Linked DNA regions of Homo sapiens. The protein of the gene in region 1 purifies or fractionates together with the protein of each later gene. This does not show direct contact. Each region holds a gene or a part of one and is shown in the gene's direction. Other genes may lie near its edges.

Region 1 (7,554 bases):
TCTACCTCTTGCTAACCATGTGACCTTGCCCCAGTTTCCTAATAAGTAAACCAAAGATGGTAATCACAGAACACAGGCCCAGTGTTGCTGAAGGATCAGAGGAGTTAATACATATACAGCACTCAGTACAATATTGAGACACAGTGACACTCGGCCAATGTTAGCTCTTATTATTATTATACTTTTTTTTTTGAGACAGGATTTCTCTCTGTTTCCCAGGCTGGAGTGCAGTGGTATGATCATAGCTCACTGTTGCCTCAACATCCTGGGCTCAAGCAATCTTCCTGTCTCAGTTTCCCAAGTAGCTAGGACTACAGGTATGCACCACCACACCTGGCTAATTTTTTTACTTTCTATTTTGTAAAGATGGGGTCTCACTATGTTGCCCAAGCTGTGTTATTGTTACTATATCTCTATTTCACTGGAGCAAATATTGACCCCCCTCATAGCACACATTCAATACATTACTTCCACAAACAATATCTTCTCTTTTCTCAAGGATGTCAATACACCCTTCTCCACAATCAGTAAGATAGGAAGATAAGGAAAGAGGGGATGAGGAAAGGAAGACTCATACTGTACTAAGCTTGCTGACCACAGGCATGAGCTCCAAACACTGCCTGCCCGGACGGCTGGTACTCCCAGGAGAAGGGACTATTCTAGCTGTGATGACGCTCCTAACAGAACGATTTTAGGAATCTTACGGGAAAGGAGTGGGGTGTGCTCTGTGCGGGGGAGCTCACCACCATTAGAGGTGTGCATCTTGCCAGTGGAAGGAGTCCTGGACTGGCAGTTGTCTCCCGACTCTTCATCTAGCTTCATCTCTTGACTAAGTATCACTTCCTCAGATGTCCTCTCTGCCCCCAATCTAAATTAGCTCTCACCTGTCATTCTCTCTTATAATTTCTTCTTTGCTCTTATTAGCCTTTATTCAACTTTCAATGACGGACATTTTGTGTGTTTATTTGTTCAGCGTCTTCTCTCCCAGTAGATTATTTAGCTGTAGAGGGCAGAGATTAAGTGTGTTTTATTGACCAAGTATAATCGCTTAGCTTTCACTTTTTAATCTGTTAAATGAGGTTGGTAATACTGCTTTTGCCCACCTCACTGAGCTGTGAAATTAAAAATGTAATACACAGGAAACTTCTTTGTAAATCATAGAACATGGTGCACATTGAATTATGCTTAGCGCCATGTCTATTGGAACGTACATCACAAACTGAACACTTGTGAAATGAGCTCCTAGACAGATTAGCATTCTGTTAAATGAGATAATAGGGAAACATGCTCAGAACAGGACACACACTGTGAAAGCTCTTATTGTGTAAGGTCAAAAATAGCAGCCCCGACCTCTAAAACTACCATATCCATGGAGTCCACACACAGTCGGCTGGAAAGAGTTAAATAGGAGCTCCCACAGCCAAAGATGTCTAAACACATGTGGGAGTGAGTAACCCAGCGCCAGTGTGTTCTGGAGCTGGGGGAGGTTTTGCAGGTCACTTTTCAAGCAAGATGTTCCTTTCCTACCAAGAGGCAAGGATGGTCAACATCTATCTTCCCCTGCTCCACGTCAGTGAGACTGCAGAGGGATGGAAGACGATTCCAGAAAAATGCCTGCTGCCGCCAGCATTTCACAGACAGCAAACGGGAGGAGGGTGAAACTCCTTAAATTCAAAAATTGCACTGATATGTGCATTACTATATGTGGAACCGGGGGAGAGCTGGAGCTGGAGAGATACAGTTGATGAATACCCCAGTGTTGGGATGCGACTCCTCTGCTTTTCATAGACAAACCAGAAACATGAAATTATCCATCCTGACAGCCGGTGTGGTGTGGGAATCACAGGCTGGTACCCACAGACCAATGGTGATAACCAGGAAGATAAAAAGACAAAGATCAGATTGGACACTGATGGGTCTTGACTCTTTATCCAATTTGCCAGTCTGTGTCTTTTAATTGAAGCATTTAGTCCATTTACATTTAAGGTTAATATTGTTAAGTGTGAAGGTTAATATTGTTATGTGTGAATTTGATCCACATTATGATGTTAGCTGGTTATTTTGCTTGTTAGTTGATGCAGTTTCTTCCTAGCATTGATGGTCTTTACAATTTGGCATGTTTTTGCAGTGGCTGGTACCAGTTGTTCCTCTCCACGTTTAGTGCTTCCTTCAGGAGCTCTTGTAGGGCAGGCCTGGTGGTGACAAAATCTCTCAGCATTTGCTTGTTTGTAAAGGATTTTATTTCTCCCTCACTTATGAAGCTTAGTTTGGCTGGATATGAAATTCTGGGTTGAAAATTCTTTTCTTTAAGAGCATTGAATATTGGCCACCACTCTCTTCTGGCTTATAGAGTTTCTGCCGAGAGATCCGCTGTTAGTCTGATGGGCTTCCCTTTGTGGGTAACCCGACCTTTCTCTCTGGCTGCCCTTAACATATTTTCCTTCATTTCAACTTTGGCGAATCTGACAATTATGTGTCTTGGAGTTGCTCTTCTCGAGGAGTATCTTTGTGGCGTTCTCTGTATTTCCTGAATTTGAATGTTGGCCTGCCTTGCTTGGTTGGGGAAGTTCTCCTGGATAATATTCTGAAGAGTGTTTTCCATCTTGGTTCCATTCTCCCCGTCACTTTCAGGTACACCAATCAGAGGTAGATTTGGTCTTTTCACATAGTCTCATATTTCTTGGAGGCTTTGTTCGTTTCTTTTTATTCTTTTTTCTCTAAACTTCTCTTCTCGCTTCATTTCATTCATTTGATCTTCCATCACTGATACCCTTTCTTCCAGTTGATCGAATCGGCTACTGAAGCTTGTGCATTCATCACGTAGTTCTCGTGCCATGGTTTTCAGCTCCATCAGGTCATTTAAGGACTTCTCTACAGTGAGAACACTGGGACACAGGAAGGGGAACATCACACACCGGGGCCTGTTGTGGGGTGGGGGGAGGGGGGAGGGATAGCATTAGGAGATATGCCTAATGCTAAAGGACGAGTTAATGGGTGCAGCACACCAACATGGCACATGTATACATATGTAACTAACCTGCACATTGTGCACATGTACCCTAGAACTTGAAGTATAATAATAAAAAAAAAAAAAGAAAAGAAAAAGATCAGATTGGACCAAAACAGACACATTTTCTTCACTACTCCATTATCTGGTTTTGTCCTATTTCTTAGGGAGGCAAGATAAGGCGTTGGCATCCTAACTGCAGTGGGTATTCCTTGTTGTTTGATGTGCATATACTTACAGTTTAATGACTCCTTAGTAAGCTCTGTGTGATCTGCAGGTTTTAGGGTGTCCATGGTTCTCCAAGGACACCAGATTCTCTGTGGTGGAGGACAGCCTCGTTTTTCCCAGGCCCTCAGCTCAGGCCTAAGCGAGGCTTGATGTTGTCTTTATACAGTAGTGACTGCCTTGAACAGTAACAAAGGTGAGCAATCGGTATAGGATAGGTAAGGCAGCAGGAAAAGGAGGGATAGGTAACTGATCAAAGGAAATAGAAATAGGCCTTGGGATGGGGGCAGGCAGGTGGGACGCCTCAGGGACCTGAGAGGGACAAAGCACCACGGCAGCTGCAAATGAAGATGGGAACACAGACCCAGGCTGAGAACATGGAGAAGCGAAGGTCCCACATGATGACACAGGAGGAGATGCGCTGGTGGTCACACCTTTCAGGGAGGTGAGTATGAAGAAGAGGAGTACAAACCTGTCAAAATTTTATTTTTAATCTTTTTTTTTTTTTTGAGAATAATTCTCACTCTTGTCCCCCAGGCTGGAGTGCAATGGTGCGATCTCGGCTCACTGCAACCTCCGCCTCCCAGGTTCAAGCGATTCTCCTGCCTCAGCCTCCCAAGCAGCTGGGATTACAGGCGCCTGCCACCACACCTGGCTAATTTTTGTGTCTTTTTTTTTTTTTAGCAGAGACGGGATTTCATCATATTGGCCAGGCTTATTTTTAATCTTAATTCATTAAATGAATGATTGCTACCAGTGTAATTGTTTTATTTTAGGCCCGGAAAAATGGAGGTTAACTTCATTGTCATCTGTCATGGAACTGTGGCCACAAAAAGAGGCGTCTCTCAGGCCAGGTACTGTAGGAGTCCGCCCCCTGCTCCATCTGTATTTTTTCCACTCACAGTCCACCTGGCATGAGAAAGGTGTTGGGATAAAGGTGAGCCCAGGGCACTGTGGGTGCCTCCGAGAGAATCTGAGCTGGGGGAGTCAGGGTCCTTCGAGAGCCTGCCATTAATATGGAGGGGGAAAGCCAGGGCTAGGCTGCGATGGGTGCTGTTGGTGGGGGGGCCAGGCCTGCACTCTGTACGTGAGGGTGAAGCTGGAGAAGGAAGCAGCCTAGAGAGGACCCGGAGCAGGGCAAACACAGATGGAGAAGCTGAGGGCAAGGAAGGGAATGACGTGGGACCCCACCCGTTGTCGGGGGCAGGCTCTGCTCTCCAGGAACAGGTAACACAGTCACTTAGAGAACAGTCACTACTTGCCCTGCCCTCCTGAGTCCCGGGAGGAAAGTGCTCGCCCATTCCTGACCTGTGACACGCTCACTGCGAAGGCAGGTTATTAGAAGAGTCCCATGAAAGTAAACAGGGTATTAAAACGGATCCTTAAAAATGAAAGTGCAGGCTGAAAGTTGGTAGTGTGGGAGGTAGAGGGTGTGTGTTCTTGTGCAGAGGAGCGTGGGGTTTGCAGAGGAGACAGGGGAGCTTTGTGTACCCGGAGCAATGAACAAGCGGCGACTTCTCTACCCCTCAGGGTGGCTCCACGGTCCCAGCGACATGCAGGGGCTCCTCTTCTCCACTCTTCTGCTTGCTGGCCTGGCACAGGTAAGTCCTCTCCCCCGACTCTTTCCCTTCCGGAGGCTATGGCCATCCTTAGTTCTTCAGGCCCAAAACTAAACAAAACGAAGATGGAGGAAGAGGGAGGATCAATGGCTTGTGGAACTACTTCATGAGAAATAGGAAGCCATTTTTCTTTCCAAATAAAGTTCTGTGTTCGTTCATGAGCTTCATGAAAGAAATGTAAAACATTTCTCCCTTTCAGGTAATGGCACCGAAGCCTCCTTTCGCTATGTTTGAACAGCGCCACGCTTTCCTATATATTTTTATAGCAGAGCCTAAGGCACAGCCTGGCACAGTGCGGGAAACAGTGTCTCTCCATGCCAGCTCCAGGCGGAGGCTCAACTTTCCATTGCTGTTTGCAAAATGTGCAAAGAGCCCCTGGAAAAACGAATTTTGACAGCGACTTTTTCCAGTTAAGTCTGTCCTTCTTTGAAAGGGGCACTTTGGAATAAACATTTACATTTTTAAAACATTCTCTTACTTTGTCTTTTCTCAGTCCATGTGTTTCTCACTTCCTGAAAGGGAAGCAGTCCATGGAGGCTTGGAAATATTTCAAGCAACAGACCAAAGGGAAGTTTAACTTACTATGAGCAATTCATTGCCTTAGTCTTTTTAAATAAGAAGATGAAAACAAGGTGACTTAATTGTTGATTTATTTACACGGTAGACAGGAGACAGAGCTTTTGAAATCTGGTGATTTAGGAAACATGGGTGTGTCTGTGAGTTAGTAGTTGATTGGGGCCATAAGTAGTAGATACATCTTAGAAAACAAGGAATTGCAAATTGTTATACCATATAGAGAGAGATTTACGATTTCAAAAGAATCATGACAAGAATGTCAGTGGTCCAGGTCATTGCTGCTGTTCTGTGGAGGGGCTCACTCCCCTGTCTGTGTGCCTCCTATTCCACTGTTCTTGAGAAAAAGCCTGTCATTGTGGATTGAGAGCAGCTAGATGTTCTTAGACAGCAGGTATTCCAACACAGAGAGATGTGTACAAAATAAACAACAACAAACACAGAAAGGTGTTACACAAAGAGCGGTAAAAATGGATTATTTTGTGCTTAACTTTGCTTTTATGAATTCATAAATTCATGAAATAGCTGATAATACCTAGCATTTACTGAATAGCTGCTATATGCCAAATACTGTGCTGGGTGCTTTATTTATTTATTTATTTATTTATTTAGAGACAGAGCCTTGCTCTGTCGTTCCAGGCTGGAGTGCAGTGGTGCAGTCTTGGGTCACTGCAACCTCCACCTCCTGGGTTCAAGCGATTGTTGTGCCTCAGCCTCCCAAGTAGCTGAGATTACAGGCCTACACCACCATGCCTTGCCAATTTTTGTATTTTAGTAGAGATAGGGTTTTGCCCTGTTGGCCAAGCTGGTCTTGAACTCCTGACCTCAAGTGATCCGCCCACCTCGGCCTCCCAAAGTGTTGGGATTACAGGTGTGAGCCACCACCTCCGGCCCAAGGGTGCTTTAGTTATTATCTTAATTATCAAAACAACTTTACAAGGTGGTCATTATTAATCCCATATTACAGAGGAGATCAAATGATGGGAAGTTCTGTAAGATCACAGAGCTGTTGCAAAGCTCGGATCTGTTGTCAAAATGCTTATTCTTTCTATTGCACCATTCTAGTGATGCTTATTGTCCTGAAATTTTGCTGTTGAAAACAATCAAAATATGCCTGAGGAAAAGTGAAAAATATAAGATTCTTTATATTTACCCACATATTGACTATGTCCAGGCCTCTTCATTTCTTCCTGTATTTCTAAGTTACTATCATAACAGAAGATCTTCAGACCGAAGATCCTCCTTTAGTATTTCTTGTGAGGCAGATCAGCTAGCAACAATTTCTCTTAGGTTTTGTTTACCCAGAAACGGTTTTTATTTCACCATCATGTTTGAAAGACAGTTTCACTGGCTATATAATTCTGGATTGACAGGATTTTTTTTTTTCTCCGTTTAACATTGTCTCTGGGCATCTTGTTCTTCTCCATCTCTCCCTCCTCCTCCTTCTTTTGATGAGAAGTCAGATCTCAGTTTTATTGTACTTCTGTATGTAATGCTTCCCCCTTTTCTCAGTCTACTGTTATGATTTTCTTTATTTTGAGATGGAATCACCCTCTGTTGCCTAGGCTGGAGTGCAGTGGCGTGTCTTGGCTCACTGCAACCTCTGCCTTCTGGGTTCAAGCGATTCTCCTGTCTCAGCCTCCTGAGTAGCTGGGACTACAGGTGCACGCCACCACACCTGGCTAAGTTTTTGTATTTTTAGTAGAGATGGGGTTTTGCCATGTTGGCCAGGCTAGTCTTGAACTCCCCGCCTCAAGTGATCCACCTGCCTCGGCATCCCAAAGTGCTGGGATTACAGGCTATTTCAGCTTCATTTTTGAAAGATGGTTTCACTGGCCATATAATTCTGGGTTGACAGGTTGTTTTTTTTTCCTTTCAACATTGTCTTTGCACATCTTCTTCTCAATCTCTTCCTCCTCCTCCGTCTTTTGATGAGAAGTCAGATCTCATTTTTCATGTAATTCAGTATGTAATGCTTTTCTCAGTCTACTGTTATGATTTTCTCTTTATCCTTGGATTTCAACAGTGTTACCTTTTGACCTCAGAGATTATCTGGAAATGCTTCAAAATTGGAAAGTTAAAGAGGCATCCGGGGGCAGTTTTGGGAGTGTGCATTTCATTAGAAAGAAC
Region 2 (6,429 bases), on another chromosome or scaffold:
CGGAGATGGGAGCAGACAGGGCGACGGGTCCTGCCGGTGCCACATGGGGTACCAGGGCCCGCTGTGCACTGACTGCATGGACGGCTACTTCAGCTCGCTCCGGAACGAGACCCACAGCATCTGCACAGGTACGGGCTACGCCTGGGCTGGCCCCGGGGTTGAGGCGGGATGACAAGAGCCCCTTGCTGGAGCTGCCTGCCTAGATGGGAACAGGGGCCTGTTGATCTTTAACCCCAGATGTCCAAGGAAGCTTCGAGGGCCCAGAAGGATGAATGAAAACATCAGAGGATAGAGGCAGAGGTTGTCGGGCACTTCCTGTCCCGTAACAGCCCTCAGAAGGGAGAAGCTACTCACCTTTCTCTCTAGTTCAAGGTCCACCCCGACCTTGAGTTGTGATGGGCCATGCAGTGCACAGGTCCTGGAGGTGCCGTGTGGGCCCCGCACCGGCCCAGAGAGCAGCATCTGTCAAATCCCTGCAGGCCGTTATGAGTGGCATCTTTCCAAAGGACGTTTTCTCCCTGGTTGTCACTGATATGTAGGAAAACTCTGAGTGTCTCGGACGTGAGTGTGTGGTTGGCCGGCAGCCCCTAGGCTATTCTGGGCAGACAGACCCGTGGATCGATAGTCAGGACCGGCCTCTCCGATTCTTACGCCCCTCAGCAGTCAGGACCGGCCTCTCCGATTCTTACCCGCCTTGCTGTCTGTCTCTTGGATGTTGGCGTGGCGTGGGCCACGCATGGATCCGTGGCCGGAACACGCACACCCAGCCAGGCTACAGCTCCAGAGTATGGATAGCTGCCTTCTCTCCAGGTTATTAAAAATTCCTTGGAGTCCTGGTTTGCTGAGAATTTTAAATTCATGGGCACTGAAAATCCCGTGTTGCTTTTCCCTCTTAAATTCCTCACTTTTAAACGAGCCTTGTCCCCAAGCTGGTACCTGAGAGTGGGGTTTGTACCCAGGCCCGCCTTTGCCTTCCAGCCTGTGACGAGTCCTGCAAGACGTGCTCGGGCCTGACCAACAGAGACTGCGGCGAGTGTGAAGTGGGCTGGGTGCTGGACGAGGGCGCCTGTGTGGGTGAGGAGCGGCCCGGGGGTGGAGGAGGGCGCCTGCGTGAGGCGTGGGGGGTGTGAGATGGGGGCGTAAGGCGTGGGGGGTGTGAGGCATGGGGGCGGGAGGCAGGGGGGCGTGAAGTGTGGGGGCGTGAGGTGGGGGCGTGAGGTGTGGGGCTTGGGGTGTGGGGGGCGTGAGGTGTGGGGGAGCATGAGGTGGGGCGTGAGGTGTGGGGGCGTGAGGTGGGGGCGTGAGGTGTGGGGGCACTCACTGTCTCACTCTCACACAATGTGTCGCCATCCTCATGGGGCGCCTGCCCCGGTTGGCACTGAGTGTCTAAGGACAGGGCCTGGCCATCGCCTCATCCCCTCCCCTGCCGCGTGGGGCCTCCGAGGATGGCATTTGAGATGATTCCTCCTCAGGGGCTGCCCTCCTCCCTGCCCTTCCCCAGCCGGCCCTGGCCACGGGCTGTGTCAGGCCATGATCGGTCCTTCCCCGCTCCCTGGCCGGGCTGTCCTGGGCCGCTCACAGCTGTGCCGCTCTGTTCCAGATGTGGACGAGTGTGCGGCCGAGCCGCCTCCCTGCAGCGCTGCGCAGTTCTGTAAGAACGCCAACGGCTCCTACACGTGCGAAGGTGGGCCAGGCGGGCGGGTCTGCACTCCGGGGCCTGCCGGGTTTCGTTGCTGCCTTTGTCAACATTCATTTATGGCTTCTTAGTGTCACTTCCATACATCCTGCCTGCCCTGAGAACACTTAGTGTGGCAAAGTAAGTCATAGGTATTTGCTGCAGGAAAATCAGAAAATTCAAGTCAGATGAAAAGAAAACAGTTAAAAACCCAGGAACTCCCTGGAGAGCGCACCCTGCTGGTGCCTCCACTGCTCGTGCCCCCCCAGCGCCCCCGCAACGTGCCCTGCGTGACTTTCCGCAGCGCCTGTCGGGTGTTTTCCACTCAGCAGCTTGTTGCGAACGTCTCTGCGTCCTGTGGTTTCTCTGTCACGCTAATGATTTTGGAGCCATTATTTCATACTTTTACAACAATGTCTGTTGCTGGACGTTTACGTCATAACAGTTTTTCAACTTATAAACTGTGAACACTTGAAGGTAAACTTTTCACATTCCTTATGATTTTCTGTGGATTAATTTCCAAATCGCTCAGTCAAGGGAATGTGTCTTTTAGAGCCATAGTGCCCCAGAAAAGTTGTGCTGATCCCCAGTCCCAGCAGCAGGGAGGAGGCCGCCTCTGCCCCGTGTGTGTGACAGCCCCAGGCAGTTTTCACTGTTGGGAGTGCAGACAGTGGGTCCCTCAGTGAGCCACTAATACTGGAAGCCATGCGAGAGGCTCTGGTTATTCTTAGGAAGCTCCTGGCAGGCTGGCAAACCAATGGTCACCGAGCTGGAGGTGGGTTTGTTTCTAGAATCTCTGTAGCACCCAGTTTCTCCCAAAGAGTTCCAAGCCAGGTGGTCTGCACCATGGCTCTCCGGGAGCACCTGCTGCACAGCAGGACGCGAGTCTGTGCTTTTGCCGGGAGACAGAGACAGATCGTTATAAAGTCACTTGGTGATGAATGAGGAGAAAACCCAAATCCTGGCGGCACCGGTGCCTTGTGCATGTCGGGGTCTGACGGGCACTGGTGCCTTGTGCATGTCGGGGTCTGACGCTGGCTCCCTGTTGCAGAGTGTGACTCCAGCTGTGTGGGCTGCACAGGGGAAGGCCCAGGAAACTGTAAAGAGTGTATCTCTGGCTACGCGAGGGAGCACGGACAGTGTGCAGGTCAGTGACGGGGTCTGTGCTGGACGCTGGTGGACCCTTCCCAAGTGACCATGATGTGAATGGCCCCAGCAGGTACTGCCAGGGATGGGAAGCAGTTGAGACCCGTCCTGCAGACGTGGCTCCCCCAGGGTCACTGTGCACTCGCCCTGAGGTCCACGTGAGACACAGAAGCAGTGGGGGTGGGGGACGGGCTCTGCATGGCCGACCCTGGTGTGGATGGCGCTGCTGCACCAGCCTCTCGCCGGTGGCCTCGTTCCCCAGGTCCACCGCCTCTGCTCTCCCTCCAGCTCCTGGGTGGCGATTGCCCCGAGGCTTAAGTCCAGGCCTGCCATGGTTGTGGGCTGCCTGGGTGAGCCTGGGCGTGGATGGAACCCGGTGGAGAAAGTGGGTTTCCTGGGCAGGCGCCATGGTTCATGCCTGTAATCCAGCACTTTGGGAGGCTGAGGCGGGGGGATCACGAGGTCAGGAGATCGAGACCATCCTGGCTAACACGGTGAAACCCCATCTCTACTAAAAATACAAAAAATTAGTCGGGCGTGGTGGCGGGCGCCTGTAGTCCCAGCTACTCGGGGGGCTGAGGCAGCAGAATGGCGTGAACCCGGGAGGCGGAGCTTGCAGTGAGAGGAGATCGCGCCACCGCACTCCAGCCTGGGCGACAGAGCGAGACTCCGCCTCAAAAAAAAAAAAAAAAGGAAAAGAAAGTGGGCTTCCTGGGCGCATGCTGGCCTTCCGGCCCCACCTGGAGGTCTCTTCTCTGCATTTTCTACCAGTTGAGGGCCCAACTTGGAGACGTGAAATTCTTCCCTCTCGAAGCCTTTCCTGATCTTTGCTCCTTTCTGTAACGTGACGTTTGTCATCGTTGTGCTTTCTTTATGTGAATGAATCTGAATGAATGAATTTCATAATCCGCTGCGCGTCTGCTGAGCAAAGTAATTATTAAAACGGAGTCTTTTCATTTTAGATGTGGACGAGTGCTCACTAGCAGAAAAAACCTGTGTGAGGAAAAACGAAAACTGCTACAATACTCCAGGGAGCTACGTCTGTGTGTGTCCTGACGGCTTCGAAGAAACGGAAGATGCCTGTGTGCCGCCGGCAGAGGCTGGTGAGTGGCACGGCTGCCCTCCACACAGGCTGCCCTCCCCTGGGCCGCAGGGCTTGCACGTAGACTGGCTGCTTGGTCTGAAATCCACACAGATGGTGGCCTTGAGATGGTGAGAGGGGGATTCCCGGAAGACAGGTGCATGACATCTCTGTGTGGGCACGCTTGCGCGAGAGGTACTGGCTTCCTGAGGATGAAGCCCCAGGTTCACAGCTCAAACGGAAGTTCAGGCGATGAAGGGGGAAGTCTCTGAAGCTCAGACCTCAGCGGGCGATGAGCAGAGGAGCAGACGCAGGAGAAGAGGCAGCTAAAGAGCTGGAAAAGTCATCCGGGGAAGCTGCCCAGGGTGCCGCAGAGACAGGGACAGGCAGGAAGTGGTGGAGGGCAAGCGGGTCCCCCACACCTGTTTCCTGGGGCTACCTTACCAAGAACCAGGAACTTAGGGCTCCAGCAACAGAAATGTGCCGCTCACAGGAGCCAGAAGTCAGAGGCCCAGACGCAAGCAGGCTGCTTCCTTGGGAGGCTGGGTGGGCGCGTCTGTTCCGGGCCTCTGTCCTCGCCTGGGGATGCCACCTGCTCCCCGTGTCTTCACGTGGTCTCCATGCGGGTGTCTGTCTCTGTCCAAACCTCCCCTCTTTGTAAGGACACCAGTCACTAATGCCCTCATGTTAACCTGGCCAGTGGTAAAGACCCTATTTCCAAACAAGGTCACAATCACAGGTACTGGGAGTAAAGACTTCAGCGTGTTTTGGGGGACATAAATCTGCCCGTGACAGTCCTCACAGAAGTCTAGAATATAGAGAGTGGGAAAGAAGCAGTGTTCAAGGAGATATTGGCTAAGGGTTTTTCAGAATGAATAAGGCACGATTCAGATTCCAGAAGCTGTTTCCTGAGCAGGACAAATAAAAGCAATTCCACATCTAGAAGCATCGTAGTAAACAGCAACAGCAAGACAGAACTGAGGGGTTAGCAGAGACGGACAGGCCAGAAGACAAGGCTGCCTGCTACCCCCTCGGTCCCCTCTGCCCTGGGCTGGCCCTGCCTCTTGCCCCTCCCTCCCCCCACCCTCGGTCCCCTCTTGCCCCTCCCTCCCACCACCCTGGGTCCCCTCTTGCCCCTCCCTCCCCCCACCCCGGGTCCCCTCTTGCCCCTCCCTCCCCCCCTCTTGCCCCTCCCTCCCCCCACCCCGGGTCCCCTCTTGCCCCTCCCTCCCCCCACCCCGGGTCCCCTCTTGCCCCTCCCTCCCCCCACCCCGGGTCCCCTCTTGCCCCTCCCTCCCCCCCGTCCCCTCATTCTCCTCCCTCCCCCCCACCCTCGGTCCCCTCTTGCCCCTCCCTCCCCGTACCACCCTCAGTCCCCTCTTTCTCCTACCTCCCCCACCCTCGGTCCCCTCTTTCTCCTCCCGCCACAACCATTGTTCAGGCTCCCATTCTGCCAGGCCGCAAGGAACCCCTTGCCGCTCCCAACTCTGCATCCTCCACACCCACGGCAGCGTGGGGGCTCTGAAATGCCGTCTGCCTCATCTCTCATCTGCTTTGTGGGAAACGGGGGTCTCCGAGCTGCCCTTGGATGGCTGCGTCCGGGGCTTTGAGCCAGGACTGGACGGGCAGGCCCTGCACATGCGCTGCTGTCCTGGGAAAGGCCTCATCCCCAGGGCCCTTTGTGCTCAGCCTTGACGACCTATGCTTGTTTTCTGACAGAAGCCACAGAAGGAGAAAGCCCGACACAGCTGCCCTCCCGCGAAGACCTGTAATGTGCCGGACTTACCCTTTAAATTATTCAGAAGGATGTCCCGTGGAAAATGTGGCCCTGAGGATGCCGTCTCCTGCAGTGGACAGCGGCGGGGAGAGGCTGCCTGCTCTCTAACGGTTGATTCTCATTTGTCCCTTAAACAGCTGCATTTCTTGGTTGTTCTTAAACAGACTTGTATATTTTGATACAGTTCTTTGTAATAAAATTGACCATTGTAGGTAATCAGGAGGAGAACGGGCGTGGGTTTGTCTCATTAATCAGGACGGACCTTTACCACTGAGTTTGCACCTGTCCTGCCAGAGCCGGGAGTGACCAGGGCTGCCGAGGTCCGCAGAGGCAGCAGGTCCGGTCCTGGGCTGGTGGCTCTGCTGTCCCTGAACAGGGCTCACGTGCCGCTTGGGGGAGGAGGGGAGGGCCCTGCCTTGGGCGAGAACCTGAAGACGTGACCAGGTGGGTTTCAGGGGTCCAACCTATGGGCCCTCTTCAGTGATTCAAAGGATGTACAAGCAGGGACCCTCAGGCAGGGGAAAAGCATCTTTGGGGGCTTCGCTGGAGGAAACAGCCACTCACAAACCGCAGGGCCTGCCCGTTCCTCATCTGGGAATGAAGACACTGCAAGAAGAAAGCTGGCTGCGGGTGAGAGGCTGCAGGCTCTGGGAGCTCCGTTCCGGGGGGCCATGGCCTCCTCCCTGGGCTCCTCATAGCCCCCAAGTCCCACTTGGCCTGGTCCCCACCACCCACTCCTCAGTCACGCCG
Region 3 (7,025 bases), on another chromosome or scaffold:
GCCTCTCCCTCTTCTTTTCACCAAAGCATCTGAAAATGTGTCAACTCTTGATTAGGTAAGAGCTGTAATGCAGATTGGCATCCTGTCTGTTTGCTTTAGAGTGCATATCGTGCTTATATTATCACCGATAAGCCAGACATGCCAGGAATTCACAACACATTAAATCACAATACTGAGGTCATGATGTAATCATATAATTCCTTCCCATCCCCATCCTTGAGGTAATTTTTCCTTTGTCTGCTTATTATGTGGCTTTTATTTAGGATGAAGCCCCTGGTTTTGTGCTTTGATATAAGGACTTCTCCTGTTTGCTGAGTACAGATCTCCTGCCTGCCTTAAGGCTAAGTGGGGAATATGTGGTTCACAGAGATGATAATGCTGGTTAAGGAATGCAAAGCTGGCAGCTGGAGGTCTGGATAATTGAAAAGCGACTATAGGCTTAGTCTTTACCTTATGTATATGCCAGGTCTCCAATCCTGTCTCCCAGGTTCAATGACATATATTGTTTTGGGTTTGTAACTTAGGATACCTACCTGGTTTATATTCTAAATGAATTGGCTGGAAACTCCTTTATGATATTCTGCAGCACCTGTAATAATACCCAGAGAACAGCTTTGCTACTGCGAAATCTTGGCTTCACTGCCATCCCCCTCCATGGACAAATGAGTCAGGTAAGGATTCATCATCATCATCAGCCATGCACTGGTGGCGTGAGCGAGATAAACCTCCTAACAGTAGGTTTGTACAATAAGGCCATAGGGCACCGATGCCTGTTTCCATAATTGTTGTAATTTTATGGGCTTTGAAGTGTTGCTCTAGATACTTACTTTCTCCTTTCAGGGTAGCGAGAGGCTCCCATTAGAATATTTCATATGTACCTGTCTGGTTTGCAAGCTGTTGAGTTGATTTATTCAGCCCTAGTGGTAATAATGACTCTGGCCTCTAAAAACATTAATAAATTATTTCCCAGTTACCTTTCTATCGTGTCAAACTACCCTTATTTTGTATCATATATATTTTTTTAATTTTTTGTTGCTTCCATATTTCTGTTTTGACCTGTGAAGCCCCATTCAAAACTTAGGGGGAAAAACCTTTAAAAAATTTATGTCTGTTTGTTCTCGTGTTTGTCTATTTTGTGTTTTGTATTCCAAAACATAGGTTAAGTTTTCCAACATTTCTTTTTCATTACCTCAGAGTAAGCGCCTAGGATCCCTTAATAAGTTTAAGGCCAAGGCCCGTTCCATTCTTCTAGCAACTGACGTTGCCAGCCGAGGTTTGGACATACCTCATGTAGATGTGGTTGTCAACTTTGACATTCCTACCCATTCCAAGGTGAGTCCTATTGCTAACTTACCTTTCTAGTCCTAAAGTGTATTTCTTAATGGACTGTCTTCTGTCTTTCCTTAGTTACAGCAGTTATTTTGTTCCTGGTTAATTAAGTATCAAAAAACAAGAAAGCCCTTGGTTAGTTCATTCACATCATCTTGCACAGGCCTGTGTATGTAACATTAGTACATATGAAAGAGGTAGCCAAGGAGAGTTATTAGATGCTCATAGAAGGGGCTGGTGCGCCACATACTGATCTTGTCACTGTCATTTCTTGAGAATGACAGCTTGTAGTTTTTTTGAGGCGGAGTCTCGCTCTGAGTTTTCTGAGGTGGAGTCTGCACCCAGTCTGGAGTGCAGTGGCGCAATCTTGGCTCACTGCATGCTCTGCCTCCTGGGTTCACGCCATTCTCCTGCCTCAGCCTCCCGAGTAGCTGGGACTACAGGCGCCCACCACCACGCCCGGCTAGTATTTTTAGTAGAGATGGGGTTTCACCGTGTTAGTCAGGACGGTCTTGATCTCCTGACCTCGTGATCTGCCCACCTCGGCCTCCCAAAGTGCTGGGATTACAGGCGTGAGCCACCGTGCCCGGCCTACAGCTTGTAGTGCTTAGTGTATCTCAAGGTTTCTCAGCCTTGGCACTATTAACATTTTAAGCTTTCGAATTCCTTGTTGTGGGGGTTGTTCTTTGAGTTGAAGGATTCCTAGTAGCATTCCTGGCCTTTACCCAGTAGATAACAGCATCACACAGTCTTCCACCTGTGATAATCAGAAATATTTCCAGACATTACCAGTGTCCCTTGAGGATGGCAGAATCACCCCTGGATGAGAACTGTTGTGTCTCTTGTCTTTGTATTTAACTGCTGTAGACAAGATGCTGTCTCATTTGATTTTCATAACAACTCTGTAATATGGGCATGTATTTCTATTCCTGTTCACTAGATAGAAACCAAGGTTCAGAGAGGTTATGTGATTTGCAGGTAATTGTGTAACTGGCAGATGGGAAGGATCAGAGCTGTAATCCAGCTCTGCCTCGAGATCCAGTGCTGTTTTTTAAAATACCATGCAGCCTGCGACCATGTAGATATGCTTTGTAGATTTATCTGTCTGTGAAAGAAGGGAAAGCATTGGATCAATTTTGTGCTGCAAGGAGAACAAAAAAGATGAAGTAGATTTGTCTCAACAAATTGCCCCGGCCATTTATTTTCTCCATGTTACGAAATGAATCTATTTTCTTTCAAAGGTTTTGCAGCAGGACTTTGCATATGTAGTTTTTTTTAAACTTATAATCCATATAACTTGAATTTATTTACCCTTTTTGTTTTAGGATTACATCCATCGAGTAGGTCGAACAGCTAGAGCTGGGCGCTCCGGAAAGGCTATTACTTTTGTCACACAGTAAGTAAATCAGCTTTAGGGCCGAGCAATGTAGAGAAAAGAGCAGAACTTTCAAGCCACTGGCTGAGAACCTGACACTACCATTTACTACACTAATCACTTTCATACTGAAAACCAGGATGAAGGAGTTGAAAGATGGGAATAATAATACCTATCTAGCAGGGTTTTGGTGAAAATTGGAGATTATATATGTAAAAGATCTAGTATAGTATTTGGCATGTAGAATGGTACCTAGAGCTGGAGAGCAATTGCCTTTGTGTCAACTCAGAAAGTATTAGAATAACTATTTCCAATTGTTTTTTTTAAAGAAACAAATTTTTATGTACCCAAGGCTGTTCTGTGAATAAATACCTTGAGGGATTTTCTCCCTCCCTCCTTTCCTTTTTTTTTTTGTATTTGTCTCGCTCTGTCGCCTAGGCTGGAGTGCAGTGGTGCAGTCTTGGCTAAGTGCACCTTCCACCCCCTGGGCTCAAGCAATCCTCCTACCTCACCATAGCTTCCCAAGTAGCTGGGACCACAGGTGCATGCCAGCACACCTGGCTTTTTAAAAAATATTTTTAGTAGAGATAGGGTTTTGTCATGTTGGCCAGGCTGGTCTTGAACTCCTGAGCTCAAGCGATCCACCTGCCTTAGCCTCTCATAGTGCTGGGATTACAGGCACAAGCCACCTGCCTGGCCGATTTTTGTTTCTTTTTCTTTTTTTAAGCAGCAAGGTTTCACTCTGTTGACCAGGCTGGAGTGCAGTGACTTGATCATAGCTCACTGCAGCTTCAAACTCCTGGGCTCAAGTAGTCCTCATACCTCAGTCTCCTGAATGGCTGGGATTACAGGCACATGCCACCACGGTTGGCTAATTTTTAATTTTTTATAGAGATGGCATCTCACTGTGTTGTCCAGGCTGGTCTGGAACTCCTGGTCTCAAGTGATTCTCCTGCTTTGACCTCCCAAAGCGTTGGGATTACAGGTGCAAGCCACCATGCCTGGCCTCCCTTGAGTGATTTTCTAATGGGCTATGCACAGAGATTGCACTTAACCCATATTTAGAAAAGAAATAATATGTTCAATATTGTTTAAACCTATGGTTCCTATTGCGTTGTATCATATAATAATAGTTTGGGAATGGACAGGCATTTGCGTTACCAGGCAACCAGAGCTGTGCAGTTTTCCTTCCTCAGGTATGATGTGGAACTCTTCCAGCGCATAGAACACTTAATTGGGAAGAAACTACCAGGTTTTCCAACACAGGATGATGAGGTTATGATGCTGACAGAACGCGTCGCTGAAGCCCAAAGGTTTGCCCGAATGGTATGCATCTTTCTTTTCTCACCAGTGTCTGTGCAAACAATGTTAACTGTGTGCCACTTTATTATATTAACCCTCATACTAAACTGCAGAAGCTGGGTATTATTTTATTCCAAATTTAAGACGAGCAAACTAAGGTGCAGAGATGGTAGGTAATTTGCATTAGACCATACAACCAAATGGTTGAATCAAGGTTTGGCCTCATTCTGACATTCACACATTCACAGCACCTGTTCATGTGTCGCACGTGGTGAGATAGTTCATCAGACTTGAGGTCAGAAGATCCAGCTGTGAACTGTGTGAGCTTGGGAAATTTGCCTGATTTCTCAGAATCAGAATCAGTTTCTCACCTGTAAATTGGGAATAACACTTGCCTGAATACCTTATGGGGTTTTATGAGCACCAGAGAAGCCAATATAAACTACATAGTTACTAGTAGGGGTTGATCATACCTAATCCAAAAATTTGAAATCCAAAACCAAGATCCAAAACTTTTCTTTTTTCTTTTTTTTTTTTTTTTTGAGATGGAGTTTTGCTCTTGTTGCCCAGGCTGGAGCGAATGGTGCAATCTCGGCTCACCACAACCTCCGCCTCCCGGGTTCAAGCGATTCTCCTGCCTCAGCCTCCCGATTACAGGCATGTGCCACCATGCCCAGCTAATTTTGTATTTTTAGTAGAGATGGGGTTTCTCCATTTTGGTCAGGCGAACTTCTGACCTCAGGTAATCCCCCCGCCTCGGCCTCCCAAAGTGCTGGGATTACAGGCTTGAGCCATTGTGCCCAGCAATCCAAAATTTTTTGAGTGCGAAAAGGATTGCCGCAAGTGGAAAATTCCATGCCTGACCTCGTGTGACAGGTTGCTATCAAGACACAGTCAAAATGTTTTTAATGCACAAAAATATTAAAAATATGATGTAAAATTACCTTCAGACAATTAAAAATATTGTGTAAAATTACCTTCATATATAAGGTATATATGAAACAAGTGAATTTTGTGTTTAGAGTTGAGCCCCATCCCCAAGATAGCTCATATGTATCTGCAAATATTCTAGAATTAGAAAAAATCTGAAGTCCGAAACACTGCTGGTCCCAAGCATTTCAGATAAGGGATACTCACCCTGTAAGTAGTAGTAACAGTAATAGTGGTGATGAGAAGATTCTAGAGGAAAACCATTGGAAGTGCTGCCTGCTTTCTGGAGTTCTGGTCTGAGGGATGGAGAAACTTTGCCCATAGTTTGTTTTTGGAGTAGCTGAGGTGCACATTTGGTTTTTATTCTGTCCACATGGGATTTTTTTGTTTGTAAAAGTATTACATGTGCATTGGGAAAAAAATTCAAAAAATACAGAAAGGATTAAAGTAGTAAGTGAAAAGGTAAACCATTCCCCACAGAAAACCATTGATAACATTTGGCTATTTTTCTTTCTTTAGCCATAATTAGACTTTATCTAATTATATAGGATTAACATTTTTCTGTTTCAACAAATACAGATTCATGTGATCGTTTCTTAATGGCTACAAAGAATTCCATCATGTGTATGAAATACTTACATTCATGGATGCTTACGCTTTTTTCCAGTTTCTTTCTACTTTGGTACAGTGTTAAACACCCTACTTTGTACAGCTTTGCATATTTACTTCCTTAGAATAAATTCCTAGAAGTACACTTGTTGGGCCAAGGGACATACACAGTTAAAATTTGAATTCATACAGAATGCCAAATTGTCCCCCGCCCCAAGAAAAGCTATAGCAGATTGCACTATAAATGAGAGTATATGTGAATTTTTCTACACCTTGGCCAATACTGGGGATTACCCTTCTCTTAAGTCTTTGCCAATCTGCCATGTGAAAATAAAACCTTACTTTAGTGTTCACGTTTTGATTACTAATAAGGTTAACATCTTTGTATATTTGGAGTTGGGTCTTGTTCCTTTGCTAATGTCAGGCATCAGCAAGTTACTTGATACTTGATCTTAAGGAGAGGGGACTAGAATGAGTAACCTTCAGTGCCAGTAATTCATTTTCAATCCCATCCTCTCTTTTTTTCTTGCAGGAGTTAAGGGAGCATGGAGAAAAGAAGAAACGCTCGCGAGAGGATGCTGGAGATAATGATGACACAGAGGGTGCTATTGGTGTCAGGAACAAGGTGGCTGGAGGAAAAATGAAGAAGCGGAAAGGCCGTTAATCACTTTTATGAAGGCTCGAGTTCTGCTGTTCTGTAAAAGAGAATTGGAGAATGAAACCTGCTCCAACAGAGATCATGAGACTGAAATTGGTCAGAATTGTGTCCAGAATGTGCTCAGCTAATTCAGTATTCTTCCCCATTCTGGGTTGGAGTTTACTGCAGAGTAATTCTTACAGTGCTGATGTCAAGACTGTTACTGTTCTTCGACTTTGATTCCTTGCTCATGACATGAGTAGGGTGTGCTCTTCTGTCACTTCACACAGACCTTTTGCCTTTTTTAGCTGCAAGTCAAGGACTAGGTTGATGATGCCCATGACCTGTAATTGTAAAGAAGCTTGGACATCTGCAAATGATATTTAAACCATCTTGGCTTGTGCTTTATTCAAACTAATGTGAAACAATAAATTTAAATATTATTTTTAAAAGATTCTAACTCCTTAAAGACCTTGGTGTTAAAGGGCCTTATAGATTTAAGTAAGATCTTGTTAATAGGTAAGAACCTGACAGTGTTGATTACATGGCAAATTCATTGGTTGTCCTAATTAAGATAAATATTTATTACTTAAAAAAATCAACAAGGAAACGAGATGATGGATGGCTTTGAAAGGGAAGCCCCAGCCGGGTGTGGTGGCTCACGCCTGTAATCCCAGCACTTTGGGAGGCCAAGATGGGCAGATCAGGAGGTCAGGAGATTGAGACCATCCTTGGTAACACCGTGAAACCCTGTCTCTACTAAAAATACACACACAAAAAAAACATTAGCCTGGCGTGGTGGCGGGCGCCTGTAGTCCCAGCTACTCGGGAGGCTGAGGCAGG

The links.
Region 2: the proteins of CCN6 (region 1) and CRELD2 purify together in Homo sapiens (affinity purification with mass spectrometry; 3 studies listed by BioGRID and IntAct, with this or other methods). This does not show direct contact.
Region 3: the proteins of CCN6 (region 1) and DDX47 purify together in Homo sapiens (affinity purification with mass spectrometry; 3 studies listed by BioGRID and IntAct, with this or other methods). This does not show direct contact.

The regions. Positions count from the first base shown.
Region 1 is NC_000006.12:112,049,573-112,057,126, forward strand, and holds the start of CCN6 (cellular communication network factor 6 isoform 1 precursor), read left to right. Parts: upstream 1-4,531; 5' UTR 4,532-4,762; coding exon of another isoform or gene 4,763-4,785; coding exon 4,786-4,833; intron 4,834-7,554. UniProt on the Homo sapiens protein: Plays a role in mitochondrial electron transport and mitochondrial respiration. Through its regulation of the mitochondrial function may play a role in normal postnatal skeletal growth and cartilage homeostasis.
Region 2 is NC_000022.11:49,921,634-49,928,062, forward strand, and holds the end of CRELD2 (protein disulfide isomerase CRELD2 isoform b precursor), read left to right. Parts: coding exon 1-128; intron 129-237; coding exon of another isoform or gene 238-272; exon of another isoform or gene 273-361; intron 362-660; coding exon of another isoform or gene 661-810; intron 811-978; coding exon 979-1,074; intron 1,075-1,600; coding exon 1,601-1,684; exon of another isoform or gene 1,685-1,827; intron 1,828-2,726; coding exon 2,727-2,822; intron 2,823-3,783; coding exon 3,784-3,924; coding exon of another isoform or gene 3,925-4,037; exon of another isoform or gene 4,038-4,935; intron 4,936-5,621; coding exon 5,622-5,674; 3' UTR 5,675-5,904; downstream 5,905-6,429. UniProt on the Homo sapiens protein: Protein disulfide isomerase. Might play a role in the unfolded protein response. May regulate transport of alpha4-beta2 neuronal acetylcholine receptor.
Region 3 is NC_000012.12:12,823,346-12,830,370, forward strand, and holds the end of DDX47 (probable ATP-dependent RNA helicase DDX47), read left to right. Parts: intron 1-524; coding exon 525-671; intron 672-1,194; coding exon 1,195-1,332; intron 1,333-2,654; coding exon 2,655-2,725; intron 2,726-3,900; coding exon 3,901-4,030; intron 4,031-6,077; coding exon 6,078-6,209; 3' UTR 6,210-6,636; downstream 6,637-7,025. UniProt on the Homo sapiens protein: Required for efficient ribosome biogenesis. May have a role in mRNA splicing. Involved in apoptosis.